Linked DNA regions of Homo sapiens: region 2 is linked to region 1. Evidence: fine-mapped expression QTL. A gene starts in region 1. The other region holds a variant in brackets. All regions are shown on one strand. Distances are between the middles of the regions. Region 1 holds the start of SOX30 (SRY-box transcription factor 30). Region 2 overlaps C5orf52 (chromosome 5 open reading frame 52).

Region 1 (2,906 bases):
AAATATTGATAGATGAAATCCACATGAACAAAAGCTTTTTTGGGATCTTCAATAGTTTTTTTTTTTTTTTTTGAGACAGGGTCTTGCTCTGTTGCCCAGGCTGGAGTGCAGTGGCACGATCTCGGCTCCTGCAACCTCTGCCTCCCAGGTTCAAGCGATTCTCCTGCCTCAGCCTCCCGAGTAGCTGGAATTACAGGCATGTGCCACCATGCCCAACTAATTTTTTATTTTTAGTAGAGACGAGGTTCCACCATGTTGGCCAGGCTGGTCTCGAACTCCTGACCTCAAGTGATCCGCCTGCCTCAGCCTCCCAAAGTGCTGGGATTACAGGAGTGAGCCACCACGCCCAGCCCAGGATCTTCAATAGTTTTTATGGGTATAATGAGTTCTTGAGATAAAAGTTTGAAAACCATTGCCCTTGTCTATCTGCCAGGTATAAGAACTCCTACTGACCACATTTGTTACCAGAGGATTGGACAATAAATTGGAGTGGTCTTTGAGTGATAACTTGTCTTGATTGCAAAAATCATCTACGTCAAGATAAACTATAGTTTTTGGCCAGAATGTCATTTAGAAATGCAGCAAATGTTAATACAGGATTTCTTTTTGTTTTTCTTGGTGATGTTTAATGGAAATAAACACAATCCTACTAAAAGGAGAAACATAAACATGGAAAGGATTTGGAACAGTGTCTAGCATAAGAGTAAGCCCTTAACACAGGTAGTGATTATTACTATTTTATTATTACCCTATCACAGTCGCTATTCATTTATTTATTCAACAAGTATTTATTGAGTACTATATGCCAGGCTCAATGGTCTGCATTGTGGATTCAGTGATGGGCAAAACACAAACTGTTCTGCCTTCAAGGACTTTATAGTCTAAAGTGGGAGAGGCAGTGGAATCATCACATGAAAATTCTAATTACAAATTGTGGTAAGCAAACCAAGTGATAGAGGTATAAGTAGACCAAGATTTTATCTGATTTTCAGAGTCAGTAAAAGCTTCTCTGAAGAAGTCCCAGTTGAGCTGCAATATGAAAAATGTGCAGGAGGAATTAAGGAGACACAAAGGAAAGAGTAGCATGCTGAGCATGTTTAAACACCCTGCAGTAGAAAGAGAATGATGATGGGGCCAATGTGGCTGAAACCCAAAGACTCAATAACTATTTAATGGCAAAAACCACAATTACTTTTGCACCAATCTAATAGTAGCAGTAGTAGGAGGTTAGATCCCAAGCCACTGGGGGATTTTTAAGGCTTTGCTAAGAATTTTAGACTTTCATTACATTATCAGTGGGGAGCCATGGAAAGTTTAGGAAAAGTGTGACAACCTTAGATTTGCGTTTTCGAAAGATCACTGGCAGCTGGAGTGTAGTGGGGCAAGGGTGACAAGCAGGGAGACTATTTACAGGGTTACGGCAGTATCCCAGTGAAAGATGCTGGGAGCCTGGAACAGGATAATGGCAGGTAGAGACACAAAACAGTGGATGAATTTGGGATGTATAGTATTTTGGAAGTAGGGCCACAGGGCCTGGTGATTAATTGAAACTTTAGCACAATAATCACACAAAGTCGAAGATCCTCCCCAGCAACATTAGCTAATAGGTTATTGATAAGTTGCAAAATCTTCCCCATTCTCCCTTGGCAAAGATTCAAAAGCCCTGGTGGTACTCAGGGCCGACAGATTACTCAGGCCGCACAGAGCGCGTGCACAAGGCCGTCGCTCCCCTTGTGACGCAAGACTTCATTCCCTGGATGTCAGCGGCCTGGAAGCGCAACGTTTCCTGGGCAACGCCATTGTCGCAGCTCCGGGTGGGGGAGGGATGACTAAAGACAACGGCTGTAAGAGAACTCCACAAGAGAGTCAGAACGAAAATGTGCAACAAGTGCGGCGGCTCCTACCATGGCAGGTGATTCGAGGACTCAGCACGAGGCGAGAGTAGGGACCAGGAAGAGCCGGAAAACCCGCCTGTGATTGGCCGTCCACGGGTATCGGTCGTTGTGATTGGGTGAGGCCCAGACAGACAGCTGCGTTTTGAACCGCGTAGGGTTCTGGGTAGCAAAGGCCTTGCAAGGCTCTTAACCGAAAGGGGGAGGGGGAAGGTCGCCAACAAACGGCTGAGCTCACAATCCTGGCCGGGGCGTCCCCCTCCCCCATGGAGAGAGCCAGACCCGAGCCGCCGCCTCAGCCGCGCCCGTTGCGTCCCGCTCCGCCCCCGCTGCCGGTCGAGGGCACCTCCTTTTGGGCAGCAGCCATGGAGCCCCCTCCGTCGTCTCCCACACTGAGCGCGGCAGCCAGTGCGACCTTGGCCTCGTCGTGCGGGGAGGCAGTGGCGTCCGGCTTACAGCCCGCGGTGCGGCGGCTGCTGCAGGTGAAGCCAGAGCAGGTGTTGCTGCTACCACAGCCTCAGGCCCAGAACGAGGAAGCCGCTGCCTCGTCCGCGCAGGCGCGGCTGTTGCAGTTCAGGCCCGACCTGCGGCTCCTGCAGCCGCCGACAGCGTCAGACGGCGCCACCTCCAGGCCCGAGTTGCACCCGGTGCAGCCCCTGGCGCTGCATGTCAAGGCCAAGAAGCAGAAGCTGGGGCCCAGCCTGGATCAGTCAGTGGGGCCTCGAGGGGCCGTCGAAACCGGTCCTAGAGCCTCCAGGGTGGTCAAGTTGGAAGGCCCCGGGCCGGCCCTCGGCTACTTCCGAGGGGACGAGAAGGGCAAGCTGGAGGCGGAGGAGGTCATGAGAGACTCGATGCAAGGCGGGGCAGGCAAAAGCCCGGCAGCCATCCGAGAAGGTGTGATCAAAACGGAGGAACCCGAGAGACTCCTCGAGGACTGCAGGCTCGGCGCGGAGCCCGCGTCCAATGGCCTGGTTCATGGCAGCGCGGAGGTCATCTTGGCCCCAACGTCCGGTG
Region 2 (2,906 bases), 22 kb before region 1:
GCAGAGTCTGGAGGAAGTGTAATTCACACAGGGTCACACAAAGCTGGCTTGCCCATCTATTTCCACTACACCACACCCATGGAAGTGTAGCAGAAAGAGAAATGCCCGGGTCCCTACTCTTCTTTTGGTGTTTGTGACCTTCAAGAGGATCTGGCACCATCTCTTAAGGATCTCCAATTGTTTTTAATGTTAGAATTTTGTGGGCCCATCCAGACTTGACCCTGGAACATGGAAGGAAGCTCAAAAGAGTCAAGAAGCAGGCAGCAGCTGTGCGTGGTGGCTCACTCCTGTAATCCCAGCACTTTGGGAGTCTGAGGTGGGTGGATCACCTGAGGTCAGGAGTTTGAGACCAGCCTGGCCAACATGGTGAAACCCCGTCTCTACTAATAAAACAAAAATTAGACGGGCGTAGTGGTGCATGCCTGTAATTCCAGCTACTTGGGAGGGTGAGGCAGGAGAATTGCTTAACCCGGGAGGTAGAGGTTGCAGTGAGTTGAGATAGCGCCACTGCACTCCAGCCTGGACAACAGGAATGAAATTCTGTCTCAAAAAAGAAAAGAAGGTGGCAGCAGCTCAACCCTGGGCACCCTGCTCTGCTTGAAAGAATGAGTGTGTTTCTGGAGTCCATCTTGTTCACTTGTCTCTTCCTAGCGCCCAACACAGTACCTGTCCCAAGCAGGCCCTAAGGACAGGTTTAATGAATCCATCAATCAGGGTCTATGGGAACAGTGGGGTGACAGCACTCAGGATTTCGAGTAAGCAGGTGAAACTCTACCTGTCCATAGCAAAAAGTGGGAGAAGAGCCTCAGCTCTCATCTGGAAAATGGGGATAATCCCCAAAGGAAAAAATTGACAAGATGGTGTTGAGGCCCATTCAAACTCTAGGACCCAAGACTTTGGTTTTCTGTTTTTTTGTTTGTTTGTTTTTTGAGATGGAGTCTTGCTCTGTTGCCACACACCTGGCTGCCACCACACCTGGCTAATTTTTGTATTTTTAGTAGAGACAGGATTTCACCATATTGGCCAGGCTGGTCTCGAATTCCTGACCTCAAGTGATCCTCCTGCCTCAGCCTCCCAAAGTGCTGGGATTAGAGGTATGAGCCACTGCGTGTGGCCTAGGACCCAAGACTTTGTATGGGAGAAAATAAGAATCCATTCATGGATTCCCTAAATAGAGAGATAATGTGCTTTCAGAAAAAAAGACCCAAGAGACATGGAGTCTTTCTCTCTGGCTCCCTTAGCCCAGGAACAGGTGCGACACCTTGCGCAAGTCAGTAACCCCGAGTATCAATTGCCTCCTCTGTAAAATGGGGCCTGCCTTAGAGCACCTTGATGACTCCCTATCACCTCTATGATATCCCAGCATATAGGGAGAATGAAATGAATATGGGTCAAGCCACTAACACCCTCTAATGCAAAAGCTTGTGGCTACTTTACCTCCATCTCATAGATTCGTTGTGTGATGCGGTTATCATGAATAATCACCCGAGATAAATGGCTCTTGGGTAAAGTTTTTTTCATCGCTGCTTCACTGGAATTCATTAAGCTGGAGCAGGGAGGGAAAGGTGGCACAGGTTACAGA[C/T]GGTTGGGGCCTGGGCCAGAGCACATTTGATGGGGTCCTGAGGGAGTGGCTGAGGCTTCCCCGGGTTTCTTGGGACAAGTGCAGCTCTGTCATAATTTTCAAAAGAACAGGGGAGTAACCACAGTTTCTTGTTGTGGAAAAGGTATGCTAAAGGGGTATTTCATGGTTACCCAGAAGAAAAGCCATTCTGAGGATGTAAAATGGCCTAGTGCAGTCCTTAAGAGAAGGGTTATCAGGAACTCAGAACCATCCTCAGAAGCAGTCACCCTTTTTGTGTTTTTTGTTTTTTTGAGGCGGAGTTTCACTCTGTCTCCCAGGCTGGAGTGTGGTGGTGCAATCTTGGCTTACTGCAAACTCCACCTCCAGTTCAAGCAATTCTCCTGCCTCGGCCTCCTGAGTAGCTGGCACTACAGGCACTCGCCACCATGCCTGGCTAATTTTTGTACTTTTAGTAGAGACGGGGTTTCACCATGTTGGACAGGCTGGGTTCAAACTCCTGACCTCAAGAGATACACCCACCTCAGCCTCCCAAAGTGCTGGGATTACAGGCAAGTGCCACCACGCCCACCCAGCCAAAAGCAGTCATCTTGATGATCCTTCTTAAGGATGAAATGGTGAGAGGAGTCTTAGAGGAGAGGAGTAAAGTTGTAGGGTAGGATTCAGAAGGATGAATCTGGGAGGTGTTTAGCTTGGGGGGCACTTGCTCTAGAGCATATGCTTCAAGGGGATCTGGGAGGTGGGGGGTTGGGGGAGTATAAATCAGAGCAGGGAGAAATGCAAATGAAAAGCTTGGACAGGTGTTAGGCTGGTTAACAGGGAAATTCTGGAAGAAAGTTTGGGGAGTTTAGAAAAGTGAAGGAGGTATGGGGTGGCTAGGGGTTTTAGGAGACTCTGAAAGGTGAGAGGTGAAAGATGGGGTGGGGTGGGGTAGAATGGAGCCAAGTACTCCAGGTGAAAATACAACAATTTGGTCAAAATGAGAAAATGGTGAAAAGTGGATACACTTACAGGCACTGAGTTTTCACTTTTTGATAATTTGGTTACACCACGAAGTAGTCTTATGAACATATATCTTTAAATGGTTTTGTCCATTTAAAAATAATTGTTCAGGACCGGGCAAGTTGGCTCACGCCTGTAGTCCCAGCACTTTGGGAGGCTGAAGCAGGCGAATCACTTGGAAGTCAGGAGTTCCAGAACAGCCTGGCAAAGATGGTGAAACCCCATCTCTGCTAAAAATACAAAAATTAGCTGGGCGTGGTGGTGAGCGCCTGTAATCCCAGCTACTCGGGAGGCTGGGGCAGGAGAATCACATGAACCCAGGAGG

What was found. PIP is the estimated chance that this variant, and not a neighbour inherited with it, causes the effect. A credible set is the group of variants that fine-mapping cannot tell apart.
Region 2: its variant is the best candidate, but not a certain one, in a credible set for the expression of SOX30 in prefrontal cortex (BrainSeq, PIP 0.52).

Annotation. Positions count from the first base shown.
Region 1 is chr5:157,651,331-157,654,236 of GRCh38, reverse strand. SOX30 (SRY-box transcription factor 30) reads left to right here and starts at 1,799. Exons shown (of 5, transcript NM_178424.2): 1 at 1,799-2,906. The coding sequence starts at 2,159. LOC105377675 (a long non-coding RNA gene) reads right to left here and starts at 2,431. Exons shown (of 3, transcript XR_941127.3): 1 at 1,905-2,431. RefSeq lists an enhancer at 1,862-2,156.
Region 2 is chr5:157,673,732-157,676,637 of GRCh38, reverse strand. C5orf52 (chromosome 5 open reading frame 52) reads right to left here. Exons shown (of 3, transcript NM_001145132.2): 2 at 1,438-1,546. Among named protein-coding and RNA genes, the nearest start is that of C5orf52, 3.7 kb to the right of the region's middle. The variant C/T (reference allele first, on the strand shown) is at 1,583.